2 linked regions of the Homo sapiens genome follow. The protein of the gene in region 2 interacts with the protein of the main gene of each other region in a pairwise test. Each region holds a gene or a part of one and is shown on either strand. Other genes may lie near its edges.

Region 1 (12,942 bases), on a different chromosome or scaffold from region 2:
ACAGATGAGAAAAAATAGATGACCGGAAGATATGTGAAAGGTTATTACATAGATTGGAGCAAAAAGCTAAAAAAGAATGAAAACACAGGAAAAAGCAAAAGAAACATATAGGATGGTGTCAATGGGTCTGTAATGAATGTAACTGGGATTCCAGGAGAAGGGAAAAAAGATGGGGAAAAGCAAAATATGAAGCAAGTATGGCTGAGAATTTTTCAGTGCTGAGTAAACACATTAGTTTTAAAACATATATTACCTTCAAACAGATGACCTCTCAAAAACAACAGTAAAAAATAGAAAACAGTGGAATAATATATTTGAGTGGCTGAGAGGAAAAACAACAAACCTCTAATTCTATACTTACTGGAAATATCAGTCTTAAGAAAAAATACCTGTAATGTACAGTTGGAAAGGAAGAAAGAAATAAACAACTAAAATCATAAATATGTGGGCAAATTGAAATGAATACTAACTGCATAAATCTGTGCGCCACCTTGTCTGTCTAATTTTTATATCTTTTTTTTTTTTTTGTAGAGATGGGGTTTCACCATTTTGGCCAGGCTGGTATCGAACTCCAGAGATCAAGTGATCCGCCTGCCTCGGCCTCCCAAAGTGCTGGGATTATAGGCGTGAGTCCCCGCGCCCGGCCCAAGGGCTAGTTTTTTCTTTTTTCTTTTTCTTTTTTTTTTTTTTTAATACTGAGTCTGGCTCAGTCACCCAGGCTGGAGTGCAGTGGTGCGATCTCGGCTCACTGCAACCTCCGTCTCCCGGGTTGAAGCAATTCTGGTGCCTCAACCTCTGAGTAGCTGGGATTACAGGCGTCCACCACCACACCCAGCTGGTGACGCATAGCTGTAGTCCCAGCTACTCAGGAGGCTGAGGTGGGAGAATCGCTTGAACCCAGGAGGCAGAGGTTGCAGTAGGCCAAGATTGCCCCACTGCACTCCAGCCTGGGCGATAAAATAAAAATAAATAAATAAAAATAAATACATTAATATAATAGCATATAAATTGAGGAGAGAGTCAACAGAGTAAAGGAATGCTCTATGATTTTTATATTGGTCAGGAAGAACATAAAAATGTCAGTTAATGTTAGTCTTTGATGAGTGAAGTATACATGTGTAATTCCTAGAACAACTACTAAAAGATTAGTAAAAGAGATGTAAAAGACATGAAAGAGCACATTCCAAATGAACAGAAAAAAAAAACAGAATAAGAAAAAGTGTTAAATCGTCCAAAAAGGAGGAAAGAAAGGGGAAAAAAAGTAACAATTCTAAATCTTTATGTGCCTGATAACACGGCTTCAACACATCGAATAAAATGTTTACAGAACTGTAAGTAGAATCGCAGCGGAAGATTTCAACACAATTCTTTTCATATGGAAAGAGGAAGAAGCACGTAAAAATCACAGAACTACAAGCACGTGGAGCATGTTCTCTGATCACAGTGGAACTAAGCCTGAAACCTAAAACAAAGAGATAACCAGAAACACATATGTTTGTAAATTAAGAAATGCATTTCTAAATAACTCCTGGGTCAAAGAGCAGCTCACAGTGGAAATCAGAAAGTATTTTGAACTGAAAGACAATGAAAATACATTAAAATTATAGCCTTAAGTCTACATACTTGAGATAAAGGAAGGCTTAAATTCATGAGGCAAGCACCCAATACGAGAAGTTTGAGATGGAATAGCAAATTTAAAACAAATAAATTAGGTCAGGAGATCGAGACCATCCTGGCTAACACGGTGAAACCCCGTCTCTACTAAATATACAAAAAATTAGCCGGGCATGGTGGTGAGCGCCTGTAGTCCCAGCTACTCAGGAGGCTGAGGCAGGAGAATGGCGTGAACCCGGGAGGCGGAGCTGGCAGTGAGCCGAGATCGCCATTGCACTCCAGCCTGGGTGACAGAGTGAGACTCTGTCTCAAAAAATAAAACAAAATAAAATAAAAATAAATTAGATGGAAGGAAGTAATACAGATTAGAATAAAAGTTAATGAAAGAAATAATAAAAAGACAGAGTCAACAAAGTCAAAAGTTACTTTCTTTGAAAAACCAAATTGAACGGTACTCCTACTGAGACAGATGAAAAAACACACACAGGTGTGCACACACACACTAATAATAAGAACTTAAAAGAGACATATTTCATATTCTGCAGATATTAAAAAGCAAATGAATGACAACAGCAGTGACAGAAACCACATAATAAGGAATAATGTATCATCAGGCAAATGTGAAATACGTTTAAAATATCTTTCTAAAATGCAAAATGTGAAAATGTGGTTGCTTTTTAACTTAATAATAAGTCTCACACATTAACTATGTACAAGACACTGTGCTAAATTATTTTACTTTTATACCCATCTCACAATTCTAAGAGGAAAGCACTCTTTCTTTTTTTCTTTTTTTTTTTTTTTTTTTTTGAGTTGGAGTCTCACTGGAGTCTCACTCTGTCATCCAGGCTGGAGTGCAATGGTGCAATCTCAGCTCACTGCAACCTCTGTCTCCCAGGTCCAAGCAATTCTCCTGCCTCAGCCTCCTGAGTAGCTGGGATTTCAGGCAATGCCACCACACCCGGCTAAATTTTTAGTGGAGGTGGGGTTTCACCATGTTGGTCAGGCTGGTCTCAAACTCCTGACCTCAAGTGATCCGCCCACCTGGGCCTCCCAAAGTGCTGGGATTACGGGTGTGAGCCACCACACCTGGCCAAGAGCACCTTTCTATTCTTGTTTATGGAAAATGGGACTCAGAGAGGAAAAGTGACTTATCCCCAGTGTCACACAATCAGTGAGTGGGGTAATCATTAACCCAAACTGAGGCCTGGCTTCAAAACCCATGCTCTTAACCGGGGAGTTACACTGACTGACAGTGACTGCTCCTTGCCTGGACAACTTCAAACATGTCGATGCCTCCCTAGTAAGAAAACCAGAAGAATATCTGTGTTGATGCTACTAGATGGCCTCACTCTTTTTCACTCTAAGGTCCTCCTCATCTTTCTCCTCTTGTCCTAGTTCACTCTTTCTCTTCTTCTATATCTTTCTCCCTCTCTTTCTCATATATGGTGAGCAAATCAGGTTCTTAGCTGCTCGACAGAGGTTTTCATAGATGAGATGGAAACCTCTCTGAGAAAAAGGATGAAGCATTGTCTCTCCAAACACTTACAAGTTAGAAGAGAATGTTGATCCATCCTCCCAGAGCCATGGTACCTCAGTCTGGGGCCGAGAAAGGCCTATCCAAAATGAATTATCAGGTTGGGAAGACACTTGTTTTACTATAAATCCCTGTAATGAAACATATACAAATATATAATAAAGAGAGAGAGAGAGAGAGAAAGAAACTATTATCATGGACGCTGAGAAAAAGACAACTGATTGAATCACTTTGGTAAAGAATGCAAGGCCGGGCGCGGTGGCTCACGCCTGTAATCCCAGCACTTTGGGAGGCCGAGGCGGGTAGATCATGAGGTCAGGAGATCGAGACCATCCTGGCTAACAAGGTGAAACCCCGTCTCTACTAAAAATACAAAAAATTAGCCGGGCGCGGTGGCGGGCGCCTGTGGTCCCAGCTACTCGGGAGGCTGAGGCAGGAGAATGGCATGAACCCGGGAAGCGGAGCTTGCAGTGAGCCGAGATTGCGCCACTGCAGTCCGCAGTCCGGCCTGGGCGACAGAGCGAGACTCCGTCTCAAAAAAAAAAAAAAGAATGCATGCCTAACCTGACATCAACCTAGAGAGAAGTGCCAATTTTTGAATGTCATTGAATGTCTCAAAAGGCCTATCTTATTTATTTAAAGTAATTATCATTTAATTTTCCAAAAGAATAGATTTGTAATGTGAGGACTGTACTGCCTCCATTCAACCTATCTGACAAAATCCCAGATGACAGTCCCCCTAGGCAGTTTTCATGGATGATTAGCCATTGTCTTCTCCTCCAATTGAAGAAATAAATTGACGCTACTTTCGTTAAGAAGTACTTCTCAGAGTTAGGTAACAACTTAAAAATAATTTAGTCCAACTGTATATTTTATGAATATGTAATCTGAGGTTCAGTGAAGATATCTGAATTGTTTACAAATCTATAACAATTTATTTTCAATTATAGGCTGGCCTAAAAGTCAGATAGACTTGTAATCCAGTACTCTTTCTTTGCCATATATCTAGTTCCATTAACTTTAATATAAATTATTACTACTGGGTAAGACATTACAGAAACAAAAACAAAATAAGAATAGTGAAAGTAGGTGTAGAAGTTATAGACTGGTTTAGATTTATAACATAGAATTTTTCCTATTAACCCCTTATCTTACCTCATTGAAGCTCTACCCTTCATTCATGATGTGTTATAAGTGCCACTTTTTCTGAAAACTTCTTAGGAACACGGGGATCTCTTTAAACTCCTATAGAATTTATTGCTAATGCCAGATATTTAACTTTTAATAGCTGCTGAGTTGCTTTTTTTTTACTTAAAAGATTATATGTGTCCTGTGATAGCAGGGTTATGTTTTAACCCTCTTTGCCTTTCCCAGTATCTTGCAAAGAGTAAATAATTTCTAAACATATATTATCATTGTTGCCATTTTTCTTGATAATTATGATGACAAGGAGAAGAATTTTCTACTTTACTTCCACCATATTTAAAAATTGAAATACAAACTCACAAAAATGGGTAGTGTCCTGATTATTGTAGTCATGCATACATGGAGTATGTTTGAAAGGATTTGTTTTAAGGCGAAACACAGTTTTTTAAATTAGTTAAAAATAAAAGCATATACTATGCACTTTATGTGCTTAAGGCATGCTATGATTATAATTATAGAGATATTAAAAATGAATTTTGGCCAAGTATGGTGGCTTACACCTGTAATCCCAACACTGGGAGATCGAGGTAGGCAGATCGCTTGTGCCCAGGATTTTGAGACCAGCCCAGATGATATGGAGAAACCTCGTCTCTATGAAAAATACAAAAAAACATTAGACGAGTGTGGTGGTGCACCCTGTAGTCCTACCTACTCAGGAAGCTGAGGTGGGAGGATCACTTGAGCCTGGGATGTCGCGGCTTCACTGCACTCTAGCTTGGGCAACAGAGTGAGACTCTGCCTCAAAAAAAAAAAAAAAAAAAGACTTCATTTTAGGAAAAATTGTCATTACCTGGAATCTCCCTCTATCTTCCTTCAGGATACACACCACAGATAATCATAACAGAAGTCTACACTTACCAATTCATTTGAGCTGTCTATCTTTAGGAGATTAGAGCCCAGTTGCCAGCATTGTCTTTTACTTCCATCCCAGGAATTTAGTGACATGCTGAATAGATAACAGCTCTTCTCATATATAATCCAATTAGGAGGACAAGGGCTGGAAAGAACCCCTGGAAATAAAAGATTAGTACCATGAGGTTCATAGCATACCAATTCACTCTTTTAGTGTGAACACCATTCATCTTAAGGACACTTATGAAATAACCAATTAGTTGCCATTTTTATATTTCATTGTCAATTCGAACTACAGGGATATGATTTTACAGATGAGAATACATTAAAATCTTCCTATTCATTTAAAATTTAAAAACAAACTAGCTATAAATAGTATTTTAGGCAGCCAACCATCCTTTTTTTCTTCACTTGTCTTCTATTCCTTCTAATTCAGCTCAAAACTACCTTTCTCCTTAATAACTCCTTAAAATAAGTCCACTCACAATCAGTCATTGAGGTACACAGCAATTTCATATTGCTACTTATTTTATGATGTAAGATCTACTTCATAATGTGACTTTCCAAGTGAGAAAAGTATAGGCCAATTATTCATATTATACACTATCTCTGTTATATATTATTAGCTACTTAATAAAAATAGTGAGAAGGTATGGGTCCAGAGATGAAAAATTGAACTGAAAACATTAAGTCATAGTCAATTATGATGCAATTAGAAGTAAAAGTCAAGTGTGTATAGAATTGTAATTAAGTAAATGAAATTGTATGATTAAACAAATTTGATGAGTTTTCAGGGACATGTGTATTAGGTCTACCTCTTTTGTATATTTTTAATATAGCTTCCTTATTCTTGGCAACATTTTCCCTTCTTTCCTTTCTCCCTGTCATTCTTCCTTTCTAATGTCATATTTCCTATTCTAACTGTATCGCATTTAAAATGTCAATTCTGTAAGGGGAGAGAACACTTTTCTTTTATTTGTATCAAATTATATGATCTCCTGTAGATCTAAGCACATAGCCAGTGATAAATCAGTTACTGATTTTAAAAATTAATAAAGTCCAATTTAGAACTGTCCAGCCAACTGCATAGGGTACTTATAATTTCACCTTATTGTATATATGACAGGGATACATTACACTAAGGTAATACTAATATGTGTATTTGCCTTAAATTTACAATCATTGAATCTAAGTGTTTTTCTTTACACCCCTGCCCCAGGCTTCAGCACCAAGAATTAACCCTCTTGAGTCAAGATTCCGTCCTTTAACTATGCCCTTGCCTGTGGTTTTGACAGCTTTGGTAGGAGTCACACTGTCTTCTAAAGATGATTGTGTGGGTTGACTGTGGTTCTCTTTATTTCTTGATAGAAAGTAGCCATTCTCCAATGTGTTGCTTCCTGAATTGGATCTCCAAATAGCTTCACATACCAACAATAATAATAGTGACAGAAAAAATGTCATTCTGCTGTGTTTGAAAATTAAAATCCCAAAACCCAAATGTTATTGGAATAAAAGAATACATTATTGATTAATGATAAATAGATGATATATTGCTGTGGAGAGATAAAGACGATTGATAGAATAGATGAAAAGAAATACATAACTTTTATAAAGGAGGTATAGTAAAAAAAAAAAAAGAAAAGAAAAAAGAAGGTGGAGAAGAAGAAATAGAATGAGGGAGGCAGCAAGAGGCAAATGTCATAGAGTCAATTGGACCCATGACAGATTTGAAATAGCAACATCTTTCACCTTTCTTCTGTTATTTAAAAATGAGAGATCCTTGAGAAACTGCCCAGTACCTATAACATAGAACGCACTCAATAAACATTTGACTAATTAAGGAATGTCATGAAGACTCTCTGAAGGTGACTGACAACAGATTGCATGTGATATAAAATGTAAAAAAAATATTAATCCATTACAAAATATCGACTTAAGACCAAGTGCCTCAGGAAATTTCTGGTGTATTCAAAGGTGTTTATATTAAAGATCGGAAATAATTTCCTTAAATAATGTGAATCATAAAAATAGCTTAATGTCCATTTAGTGAATTTATTTCATTAGGAAGACAGCACCATATTGTACTTTCTTCTTCAGCTCCGCTTGTTTTCTTCATTAATTTATCCTTTGAATTCCACAGCTTTGAAACCAGCTATGTAAGGGAGGTAGGAGAGCAATGTAGTTAAGAGTATGAGTTTTTTAGACAGATCACCCAAATTTCTAATCATGGTCCCACCACTAACTAGCTTATAACCCTGGAAAGGTAAAATAACCTCTCAGTCTCTCACACCCTTTATAAGTGAAATGGGCATTAACAGCACCAACCCAATACAGATAAAACCAGATTATATACAAATTAAAGTAGATTATGCATGTCAAGCCCTTAAAAGAGTGCCTGGCACATAATAATTGCTTACTAAATTGTCTGTTGTTAATCTCCTCCACCAAATACTCACCCATGGTACCCAGGACCACAGCTATCACCAGTATTACCAAGCATAGGATTCCCAAAATTACAGCAATGAGGCGCCAAGGAGGAGATGCAGCACACGATCCTGAGGAGCCAGAGGGGGCAGAAATGGAATAAAGAAAGAGAATGACGGATGGTGGGGCAGTTTAATTCTACAGTTCATCAAAAATCTGGCCTTGCACGGTGGCTCACACCTGTAATCCCAGAAGGGAGACTGAGGTAGGAGGATTGCTTGAGGCCAGAAGCTCAAGACCAGCCTGGGCAACACAGGGAGACCCTGTCCCTACCAAAAAAAAAAAAGAAAAACAAAGAAAGAAAAAAAATTTAATTAGCTGGGCATTGTGGTGAGCTCCCGTAGTCCCAGCTACTCTGGAGGCTGTGGCAGGAGGATCACTTGAGCCTAGGAATTCCAGAGCAGCATAGGCAAAAAAGTGATACCCTGTTAAAACACACACACACACACACACACACACACACACACACACACCACCAACAACAACAACAAAAAATACTGGCAAATTTTTAAGTGAATTATTAATCACTGCCTAGGTTACCTGGTCACCTAGGATTTGCTGTGCTTCTCCACCAGTAAGGATACCTTCTTCTTCAATTGCTGGAATTGTAATTTCGGCACATTGGCTTGATAACTGTATGCTCCTAATTTCAGTTCCACATTGACATCTACAGGTCTTGACATTAGTAGGATCCCTGAAATCCCACTGATTCTTAGAGGAAATAGCTTAATGTTGGGGAGATAGCACTGATTACTAAGGGTAATTTTCCCTTTTCATATGTTTGTTGCATGACCCTGGGCAAATTACTCCCTTTGTTGTTTTTTATTCCTCTTTGTGAAACTGGGGTAATAATATCTCAAAGGATTATTGCGGGAATTAAACGAGCTAACACATATAAAAGCACCTTGTTTAGAGACTGCTAGCACATGATAGGTGTGTTGTTGCAGGATACCGTTTGCCTACACATATGCATAAACATGCGCATGTCTCCCTACCTCTTGCCTCATCCACTTTTTCCACGCTTCCTCAATAGGTTGCCCAAGAAAAGAATTACATCAGTGCTGAGAGGAAAATATTTGTGCAGTGTGAATAACCAGAAAGCAGAAGAAAGCAAACTCTGGTGTCAAAACCGACAAATGATCTCTCTCTCTCAAAGATAATAGGGAACTAATTTTGTATGAACATTGCCATAACCAGAATGTATTTCTGCTTTCCACTGTGACTAAGCTGTCAGGACATTTCATAGAATTGTCACATAGGAGAATCGTAGAGTAGGCTAAATCACCCATTCTATGAATACAGAGATCCTCCAATGCCCTTCTTTCTATTTCATTTCATTTACACTTTGTTTAAGACTCATGTCCTGCTGGTGGGATGTTTTTATCTACCATATGTTCATATATTTTCCATCACTGGTATACCAATAATTGTTTTTTGTTTAAAAACAATTTAAATTAATCTCTTACCACAAAAAAAAAATGTTGTTCATATATATACTTCTTTAAGTTTCCTGGCCTCCATTCGATAATCTAGCCTTTCTATCAAACAAGCAACAAGTCACTCATACAGAAATCCTTTATCTTTGTGTATTATCCCACTTATTACCAATTCCTCACTGATGAAATGTCTATATCTATAGAAAAGAGAAATTCTATTTTCTGCCATCAGACATAATTAATTTAAACACTAATAATTGGTCACTGAATAATTTTCATGAAAAAAGGTTTAGGGTGCATTCAATTTATCTTCAGTGACATCTGAAGCCTTTAAAAGTATATCCATAAAAATATACACATCACGAGGCTCTCAAATTTTCTCCCCTTATATCTTTTTGTTTTGTTTTTATTTTTATTTTTTTTCAGAGATGGAGTCTTGCTCTGCCACCCAGGCTGGAGTGCATTGGCATGATCTTGGCTCACTGCAACCTCCACCTCCCAGGTTCAAGTGATTCTCCTGCCTCAGCCTCCCAAGTACCTGGAACTACAGGCGTGCACCACCATGCCCGGCTAATTTTTGTATTTTTAGTAGAGACAGAGTTTCACCACGTTAGCCAAGCTGGCCTCGAACTCCTGACCTCAGTCAATCCACCCGCCTCGGCCTCCCAAAGTGCTGGGATTACAGGTGTGAGCCACCATGCCTAGCCTCCCCTTATATCTTTTCAAACGGGAGAGCTAAAGGCACACATTAGAAAAAACATATATATACCTTTCTCTGAAACAACAGCTATCCTGGTATTGCTTTGAGAGTCGAAGTGTAATTGAGTATATCCATCTTCATCCAAATTTTCTAAATCAGGATGATATTCCATTGTTCTTGAGAGCCCCTGAATAGATATAGCATTTGGGAGCTCTTTTCTTTCTGCTCCTGAGATGACTGTCTGTGGACAAAAGAGAATCTCTGAGTCAAATCATGTGGGCTAGGTACTTACCGGAGTTTAACAAATTAAGCTTAAGTAGTTCAACCAGATATTCAAGAGCAGGAAATGAAACTATGCTGTGGTAATTTTCCATTTGTACCTTTAGATCCTGTTTCTGAGACTGCTGACTCAGGAAAACTAAAAGGCAGCATAGCAGATGAGTCTTTGTTTCAGACCAAATGTAAGAAAAATGCATACATTAATGTCTTATGCTGCCTTCATTACTCTCACAACTAAGTCTGACATTAATTAATTTAACCGATGCAAACTATTTCAGTTTTGGTGCTCCAAGTTTACCATAACTTTGTTCATGTATTTATTCATGTATTTTTTAAATTACATAAACAGGTACTGGATGCCCACCTTTTCAATTGGTAGGAGCTTACAATACAAGGAAAAATGATACCTATGAAGAAACTCATTGCTTAATAAAGGAAATATATAGATAGGTAAATGAGGGATGGCATGAGGAGATGCATTGTTGTAACAACAGACAGAGAAAACAAATCTCTTTGGGAATTATCAGATATTAACACAAAATAACATTTATTGAACAATTACTATGAGCTAAGTACCACATGTTGTACATATTTTCTTGTTCAATCTCACTTTTCCAAGTCTATATAGTAGGCATTATTATTTCTATTTTCAAATGAAAAAATGAGACAGAAAATTTAGCCTCTTTCTCAGGTTTAAGAAGCTAATTTTAAAAATTTAGAGCAAGGAATCAAATCAAAGCTGACTCTTGCTGCAAAACTCGTGGTCTTTTCTGTTACGCTACACTGCCTCTTTCATCATTCCATACACTTATATTGCAAGGAACAGCTTATGGAAGGTGTTGGGACTGAAATATTATGTTAGATGTTTGATTTTTTTTCCCTCTCTTCCAGTTTCCATAGTAATGATCAAATCAAAGAAATATAGAAAACACCTAACATTGCTGGAAACTGAAGAGGTGTTCAACTCATTTATCCGACCTTGAAGCCAGTAGAGTGCAGGAGACATCTGAGTGTTGTCAAGGATCAACAAATCTGGATACTAGTTAATGTGGTGAGGACAGGTTTTATTCAGTAATACTATTGCAACAGGAACCAGTGCAGCATTAACTGAACTCAACTTCCCCAAAAGTAAAGCTGATGACATTTTAAAGTGGAGTTTGCTAAGGAAAAGATACTGAGTGGTGTTAAGGAAAGTTAATGTGACTAGACTCTCTGGATTTGTTAATTGGCCCTTATCCAGAGGACAGAGAAACTTTGCCTATCTATATGACAGAAGGACATGGTGATAGTTGAAGTGAAGCACCCAGCTAAGTTGGTCCTTATGCTGCATCTGAAAGAAAGAGCAAGATTTATCTCCCTGAATGTTTGCATTTCAAAGAAACAGCTCCCAAGTCCTTGAAGAAACAGTTCTGTGTGGTAGATTTGCTTCTCAAAGGGCAGAGAAAGAATTTAACTGTAAGATTTATTTTTCTTTTCTTTCTTTTTTTTTTTTTAGACGAAATTTCGCTCTTGTTGCCCAGGCTGGTGTGCAAATGGCACGATCTCGGCTCACCACAACCTCCGCCTCCCGGGTTCAAGCGATTCTCCTGCCTCAGCCTCCTGAGTAAGCTGGGATTACAGGCATGTGCCACCACGCCAGGCTAATTTTGTATTTTTAGTAGAGACAGCATTTCTCCATGTTGGTCAGGCTGGTCTTGAACCCCTGACCTCTGGTGATCCGCCTGCCTCGGCCTCCCAAAGTGCTGGGATTACAGGCGTGAGCCACTGCACCTGGCCTAACTGTAAGATTTCTAAAGTAACTGCTCTAAAAGGAATTCAGGAGCCTATCTGTTACCAAGTTTTTTGTTGTTGTTGTTGTTTTGAGACAGAGTCTCGCTCTGTTGCCCACGCTGGAGTGCAGTGGCGCGATTTCGGCTCACTGCAAGCTCTGCCTCCTGGGTTCACGCCATTCTCCTGCCTCAGCCTCCCAAGTAGCTGGGACTACAGGCGCCCGCCACCATGCCTGGCTAATTTTTTGTATTTTTAGTAGAGACAGGGTTTCATCGTGTTAACCAGAATGGTCTCGATCTCCTGACCTCGTGATCCGCCCGCCTCGGCCTCCCAAGGTGCTGGGATTACACGCATGAGCCACCACACCTGGCCTGTTAACAAGTTTTAACTGGAACAAAAAGTAAATTCTCCTAGCAGCATTGGGCTTCCTCAGGCTGGCCTTTTAAGTAGTGCTGAATCATCCTATGGACCTTGCCTTAGGCTACTAGAAGGCGTGCTAGAGTTTGCCAAGTCTCTAGTGCAGAGATTTGGGAGGAGTTGTTATATGATGAGGGCTCTGCAGTTCTGACAGTCTAACACCTATCAAAATGGAAGAGAGCTCAAGAGAGTACATAAATGAGCTTCCCGCCTTACTTAAGCTGCCACAAAAGTTTTACTAAGTTTTTGTAGACATGTTGCAAAGTGGTAATGTGGATCTTAATCTCAACATTCATCAGTGTTTCAGTCCTATAATGCAGTGCTTGGAAAGCAGCGTATGAGGTTCAGGACATGCAACCCCAAAATATGGATTCTTGGCATTTGAGAAAACAGCAGAATCAGGAAATTCACTCTCACACCTTTCCCCGTCTTTCTGCCCTGAAGCAGATCATAAGACCCTTATTTTAGAAGTATTGTTTCCTAGAGGAAAGAAACTTCCTTATCTTTGAAGATACAGAGATGCCAAGAAGAATCTGAACAAATTAGTCTTGCTAAGCTCCCTCCAGTTTATTAGCATTAGATCATACCCTCCTTGTCCAACGTAGGGGAGAAAAAGTAGTATCTTTTCCTTGCCCATCACCAGGTTC
Region 2 (7,000 bases):
GACCGCTAGGAATTTACTACAGATTTCCTTGCTGAGTGAGCCAGGCTGCGTGCACAAGTTCATTGCTACATTATTAGTTATGCTGAAAATGGAAACAACATGTCTACCAACAGGGGACTGCTTCAATAAATTTAGTGGGAGCCATGTGATAAAACTCTAAGCAGAATGAGGCAGGGGAGACAGAGAGATGTCCAAGCTGTGCTCAGTGGGAAAAGCATTGTCATATGATGCTGCGTCTGCTGTATTTGCAGGGAATATAACTAGGACCATAACACAAAAACCGGCACACAGGGATGATCTCTTCAGAGGGGGTCTTGGTACAAGGGGAGGAGGAGATTCGAATATTTTTTAAACTTGTACTTTTTTTGGTAGTTTAATAAGTTTAAAATTGAAAAACATTGTACAAGGATTCACGTTTTTCTAGTTCTCACCCCGGGTGTTTCTCCTGTGACTTGTGTGGTGAGATCAAGGGGTTCTAGAGGCCCCATCCCAGAGCTAAGGAGTCTCTGGGATGAGTTGGGGCTTTTTATCTATTATGATAAAACATATATAATGTAAAATTTGCCATTTCAACCATTTTAAGCCTACAGTTTGGTGGCATTAATTACATTCACAATGTGCAACCGTCACCACTGTCTATTTTCAAAACTTTCATCACTTAGGCTTCTTTTGACCTTGAGCTCTGTGGCATGGGGTCTGCGAAGGCCCTGCTCTCCCTTTTCAGAGAACAACCTGTAGCCAAGGGTGTTCCAGCTGTACCTTGTGGGCTGGGATGAGGACTCTGTTCCCTCTCTTGCCTGGAGCTGCCTGAGCTGTAGGTGACAGGTCTTGTTTCTGAGTGCTCCAGGGGCATAGGGCGGCAGGCACAGGGCTCTCTTTGAAAGGAGAACCGCCTTATCTTCCATGCCTCTGTAGGTTGCTGGGGGTCTAGCTGTGGGACTCTGGGGAAAGGCGGGTCTCCTGCTTCCTGGCCTTCCCTCTCTGAGCCTCAGTTTATGCTCAGGAGGAGCAATGGGAATGGGGCTTCACCTTGGCTACCTCTCTGCCCTTTCAGACATCACGGCTGCAGCCCTGGCTACGGGTGCCTGCATCGTAGGAATCCTCTGCCTCCCCCTCATCCTGCTCCTGGTCTACAAGCAAAGGCAGGCAGCCTCCAACCGCCGTGAGTATTCCTCCCTGCCTGGGGTGGGTGGACGGTGCGAGTGACCTGCTCCAGCCCCCAGTTCAGCCCCTGGGATTCGCAAAGGCACGATGCAGGCACAATTCCTTTTCATTTGAGAGTTGGGAGCAGCTGCACTTCCCGCCAGGAGCTGGGCGAAATGGCCGAGAGAAAGGAGGCATGCCATTTCCGGGGGCCAAGTGCCCACCAGCCCCTTTGGCTCCCAGGCAGTGCTGGCTCGGCACTCAATACATGTCTTCTGAATGAATGATCATATGCAGTAGCTCAAGTTGCTTTATAAAAGCAAGTTGCTGCCACTCAGAGATCCTTGGGGGACCTGTTTAAGGTATGGGCGTGCTTGTTTTGTAATTAGTAGCAATTGTTGGGACAAAAAATGATCTTTGGAATATCAGAAGTGGAAGGGGTCTTACAGACAACTTAGCTCAACCCTTTCTTTTTCCAGATGAGAAGGCTAAGATCAGTGGGGTTACATAACTGACTGAATGTTACGTAACTTAGTAAGTGGCAGAGCTAGGACTCAATCTCAGAGCTTTCAACGCATGCTCTTTCCAGGGAATAGAAGTCCACCATATAATAAAAATGCTCTCACTTACTCCTCATTGCAAGTCCAAGAATTTGGTCCTACCATTGTCCCCATTTTACTGATGGGCAAACGGAGGCACAGAGGGGTTAAGTAACTTGCCTAAGGAACCACACAGCAAATAAGTGGTGGGGCTGGGCTTTAAGTCATGGGCACAAACATCTTTCACCTCCCACCCTGGCCAGGTGACAGTGCCCCTTGCCTAGTTCCTGACCCTGCCCTTGAGTCTTGGTTAGTCTGAGTCCTCCAAGAAGGGGCTAGGGAGTTTTTTACCCTTGCCTCCCCTCCCTGGCCTCTTCCCGTCTGCCTGGCTACAGAGGTAACTGAGAAAGGATTGCTCTGGTGCCAGGTGGCTTTTGGCTCGCAACTTATTTCCTGTGGCCGGCCCTTAACAACTTGTCATCCCTCCCTCCCCTCATTCCCGGGGGCCCCCACGTGAAGCCCCATAGTGGGTCACTCGGGGGCTGTGGCCACCTCACCCTTGCTTTCAGAACTCCCCTATTCCTCTCCTAGAACACACCACAACCTACCTGCAGGAATACCCATGGCTGGGGGTGGGTGGGGGCAGGTAAAGGGCTTGGAACAGAAGAGCAACGCTGGGCAGCAGGGCAGGGGGAGCAGGTGTTGCTGTGCCCTCCCTGGTGGAAGGCTGGCCCAGAGAGCCTGCTCAGGAATGAGGCACTCTCAGGAAAAAAAGAAAAGGAAAGGGCTGGGAGCCTTGAGGACGGCAGTTTGCTGGAGAGGCCAACAGGTGTGGATTTCCATCCTGCTTTGGACTGAGCCTCAGTTTCCCCAGCTCTAAAATGGGACCAACAACCCTCACCCCAAAGGGTGGCACAGAGGATGAGATGAGGGAATACCCGTGTGCACCTGCACGAAGCCTGACCCATGAGTCGGCTGTAAGCAATAGCCATGGTTTGAATAGATTTCAGGAACTTTTGGGTAACTTCCCTGTGTTTGTTCTGTTGTTGTGCCCCTCCCCCACCATCTGTTTCCCCATCGTAATCAGCAGTAAATCTCCTTAAAACGAGAAGCATCTGTGGGAGGACATGGGGTGCTGCATGAAAGAGGGAAGTTGGGGTCACTGCATCTAATTGGTGGCCAGTTTGGGGGGTGGGGTGTCCCAAGGCTGAGGCAAGCGGCAGCAACTTGGATGAGAAGCAGAAAGTGAGTGAAGTGGCTGGGAAGTGATCGGGGACTTGCACCTTGTAAGGTTTCCCTGAGAGATGTCCCCTAGAATGCCACCCTATTAGGCAATGTAGGGGATAGGACAGAGAGGACCAGGAGCCCTCTAATTAGGAACTGACCTTAAACACTCCCACCCAGTAAGTCATGGCTAAAGACCAGAACCTGGCAAATGTTCAAACAAGAGACACCAGTTAGCAAATTCAAGAGTTGACCTTTGCTCGATACTTAAATCCTGAAGGTCTGACACTGTGTAAGTCAAGCCATAGGAGAAAGCGCTGGCTGCCTTTGGTCTCCTGATGGCAGATAGCGTTCTTACACTCCTGGAAAATGCAGATAGAGTTTCATTTATCAGTCGTCAAAATGGGCCCCTCATGGAGGCCCCATCTGCTGGACAGACACGCAGATCGCTTGCTGGACAGCACCCATGTGAAAAGAAATGGAGTCCGGAGCTGTGCAGGGCCCTCCTGGGCTCGCTCCTGTTCCCTGCAGGGCATCTGCCAGCAGGGGCAGGGATGTTGTATGGGGAAGCCTTCCCTTCCATGACCAGCTTCTCTGTCTGTCTGTCCCTAGGTGCCCAGGAGCTGGTGCGGATGGACAGGTAAGGCCCATGGAGACCTTCTTGAGAAAACTTCCTGGGCCGGCTATCCAGGAAGAGATACTTCTGTGCAGTAGGGGCCCTGTTTAGCTGCCTAGAGCAGCTGGTCAGAAGAGCCTCTGCCATCTGCTGCTGAAGCCTGCACATCTGTGCAGATTGGCTGTTCTCCTGCCACCCCGACTCAGCAGGCTGAGCTCTGATTCTGCTCAGATGTGTCATGCACCCACCTTCGGGTCTCAGTGGTCAGCCTGGGCCAGGATGGGGACAGGGAGGAAGCACTGTCTGGGGCAGACAGTGAGACATGCAAAGGAGGCCAGCGGGCCCAGCCCCAGCCACAGCCCTTGAGCTGTGCCTCCTGCCCGCAGAGAACTCCAAGGAGAAAGCTGTTAGGCCGCTGCAGGCCACAAGGGCAGAGGCTGAGGGGTCCCAGAGTGGTGCAGTGGGCTGGGTCTAGGGGCAGAGGGGATGGGGACTGTGTATTGGTGTGCTCTGGGCAGGAAGCTGCCATGCAGCCTGGCCTGGAGGGTGTGTTCAGGGAACCCAAGTTCCTGCCCCGGTACCTGCAACACCAAACACAAAGCTCCTCTAGGTGTTTGAAAGGGATGATCTTCAAGACAGGTTGAAGGAAGTCCTGCTTGCAACTCATCTAGAATCTAAGAGTTGCAGGGGTCTTCAGAAGTTATCCCACTCCCAACTGGGAAGAGAAGAGAACCCCTCCCCTCAGCTCAAGACAGGCTTTGGGGATGTTCGATCCTAATGCCATCAACTCTATTGACCAAAGAGAAACTTGTCCCCAAATTCCTGAGGCTGAAGTTCTAGAAGTGTCTGTGATTTTTGGCTTCCTGGCTGTGCCCGGGGTTGATGGTCAGACCACAGGGAGGAGCTGGGGTCTGTTCTGGTGGGCCCTGATGCCCTCAGCTCAGGACAGGTGGGCAGGTGCAGCCCATGGCCTTTGCTCTGTGGGCCTGGCTCCTGCCTTCTTGCTTGGAGATGCTGCTGAGGCTTGGGGATGGGGATGTAGGTGAGAGAAAGGGAGGAGAGAAAAACTGGGGGCAGGGAGGGCAGAGTTCACGCTCCGGACAGCACAGATGACCTTCCATTCTGGTTCTGTGGCAGCAACATTCAAGGGATTGAAAACCCCGGCTTTGAAGCCTCACCACCTGCCCAGGGGATACCCGAGGCCAAAGTCAGGCACCCCCTGTCCTATGTGGCCCAGCGGCAGCCTTCTGAGTCTGGGCGGCATCTGCTTTCGGAGCCCAGCACCCCCCTGTCTCCTCCAGGCCCCGGAGACGTCTTCTTCCCATCCCTGGGTAAGTGTTTCCTGACCTTCACAGCACGATGACCTGTAAGGTCATGACCTCATGGCCTGCAGGGCATCGGCCTCACTCCCTGCCCTCCCTGAAGAGTTCCACGGCCTCACGGGGTGGGGTTGAGGGTGAGGGACAGAGGGGCCCCCATTCACCTCCCTGAAGAGTTCCACGGCCTCACGGGGTGGGGTTGAGGGTGAGGGACAGAGGGGCCCCCATTCACCTCCCTGAAGAGTTCCACGGCCTCACGGGGTGGGGTTGAGGGTGAGGGACAGAGGGGCCCCCATTCACCTCCCTGAAGAGTTCCACGGCCTCACGGGGTGGGGTTGAGGGTGAGGGGCAGAGGGGCCCCGTTCACTTTGCTTCTCCTTTTCTTGCAGACCCTGTCCCTGACTCTCCAAACTTTGAGGTCATCTAGCCCAGCTGGGGGACAGTGGGCTGTTGTGGCTGGGTCTGGGGCAGGTGCATTTGAGCCAGGGCTGGCTCTGTGAGTGGCCTCCTTGGCCTCGGCCCTGGTTCCCTCCCTCCTGCTCTGGGCTCAGATACTGTGACATCCCAGAAGCCCAGCCCCTCAACCCCTCTGGATGCTACATGGGGATGCTGGACGGCTCAGCCCCTGTTCCAAGGATTTTGGGGTGCTGAGATTCTCCCCTAGAGACCTGAAATTCACCAGCTACAGATGCCAAATGACTTACATCTTAAGAAGTCTCAGAACGTCCAGCCCTTCAGCAGCTCTCGTTCTGAGACATGAGCCTTGGGATGTGGCAGCATCAGTGGGACAAGATGGACACTGGGCCACCCTCCCAGGCACCAGACACAGGGCACGGTGGAGAGACTTCTCCCCCGTGGCCGCCTTGGCTCCCCCGTTTTGCCCGAGGCTGCTCTTCTGTCAGACTTCCTCTTTGTACCACAGTGGCTCTGGGGCCAGGCCTGCCTGCCCACTGGCCATCGCCACCTTCCCCAGCTGCCTCCTACCAGCAGTTTCTCTGAAGATCTGTCAACAGGTTAAGTCAATCTGGGGCTTCCACTGCCTGCATTCCAGTCCCCAGAGCTTGGTGGTCCCGAAACGGGAAGTACATATTGGGGCATGGTGGCCTCCGTGAGCAAATGGTGTCTTGGGCAATCTGAGGCCAGGACAGATGTTGCCCCACCCACTGGAGATGGTGCTGAGGGAGGTGGGTGGGGCCTTCTGGGAAGGTGAGTGGAGAGGGGCACCTGCCCCCCGCCCTCCCCATCCCCTACTCCCACTGCTCAGCGCGGGCCATTGCAAGGGTGCCACACAATGTCTTGTCCACCCTGGGACACTTCTGAGTATGAAGCGGGATGCTATTAAAAACTACATGGGGAAACAGGTGCAAACCCTGGAGATGGATTGTAAGAGCCAGTTTAAATCTGCACTCTGCTGCTCCTCCCCCACCCCCACCTTCCACTCCATACAATCTGGGCCTGGTGGAGTCTTCGCTTCAGAGCCATTCGGCCAGGTGCGGGTGATGTTCCCATCTCCTGCTTGTGGGCATGCCCTGGCTTTGTTTTTATACACATAGGCAAGGTGAGTCCTCTGTGGAATTGTGATTGAAGGATTTTAAAGCAGGGGAGGAGAGTAGGGGGCATCTCTGTACACTCTGGGGGTAAAACAGGGAAGGCAGTGCCTGAGCATGGGGACAGGTGAGGTGGGGCTGGGCAGACCCCCTGTAGCGTTTAGCAGGATGGGGGCCCCAGGTACTGTGGAGAGCATAGTCCAGCCTGGGCATTTGTCTCCTAGCAGCCTACACTGGCTCTGCTGAGCTGGGCCTGGGTGCTGAAAGCCAGGATTTGGGGCTAGGCGGGAAGATGTTCGCCCAATTGCTTGGGGGGTTGGGGGGATGGAAAAGGGGAGCACCTCTAGGCTGCCTGGCAGCAGTGAGCCCTGGGCCTGTGGCTACAGCCAGGGAACCCCACCTGGACACATGGCCCTGCTTCTAAGCCCCCCAGTTAGGCCCAAAGGAATGGTCCACTGAGGGCCTCCTGCTCTGCCTGGGCTGGGCCAGGGGCTTTGAGGAGAGGGTAAACATAGGCCCGGAGATGGGGCTGACACCTCGAGTGGCCAGAATATGCCCAAACCCCGGCTTCTCCCTTGTCCCTAGGCAGAGGGGGGTCCCTTCTTTTGTTCC

The links.
Region 1: the proteins of VSIR (region 2) and CLEC7A interact in binary tests that used the Homo sapiens proteins (3 or more experiments, as listed by UniProt).

Annotation. Positions count from the first base shown.
Region 1 is NC_000012.12:10,120,082-10,133,023, forward strand, and holds the start of CLEC7A (C-type lectin domain family 7 member A), read right to left. Parts: upstream 10,119-12,942; 5' UTR 10,002-10,118; coding exon 9,899-10,001; intron 7,765-9,898; coding exon 7,666-7,764; intron 7,362-7,665; coding exon of another isoform or gene 7,330-7,361; exon of another isoform or gene 7,242-7,329; intron 6,628-7,241; coding exon 6,490-6,627; intron 5,368-6,489; coding exon 5,216-5,367; intron 5,093-5,215; coding exon of another isoform or gene 5,006-5,092; intron 3,283-5,005; coding exon 3,164-3,282; intron 1-3,163.
Region 2 is NC_000010.11:71,749,521-71,756,520, reverse strand, and holds part of VSIR (V-type immunoglobulin domain-containing suppressor of T-cell activation precursor), read left to right. Parts: intron 1-1,054; coding exon 1,055-1,162; intron 1,163-3,518; coding exon 3,519-3,546; intron 3,547-4,659; coding exon 4,660-4,853; intron 4,854-5,230; coding exon 5,231-5,268; 3' UTR 5,269-7,000.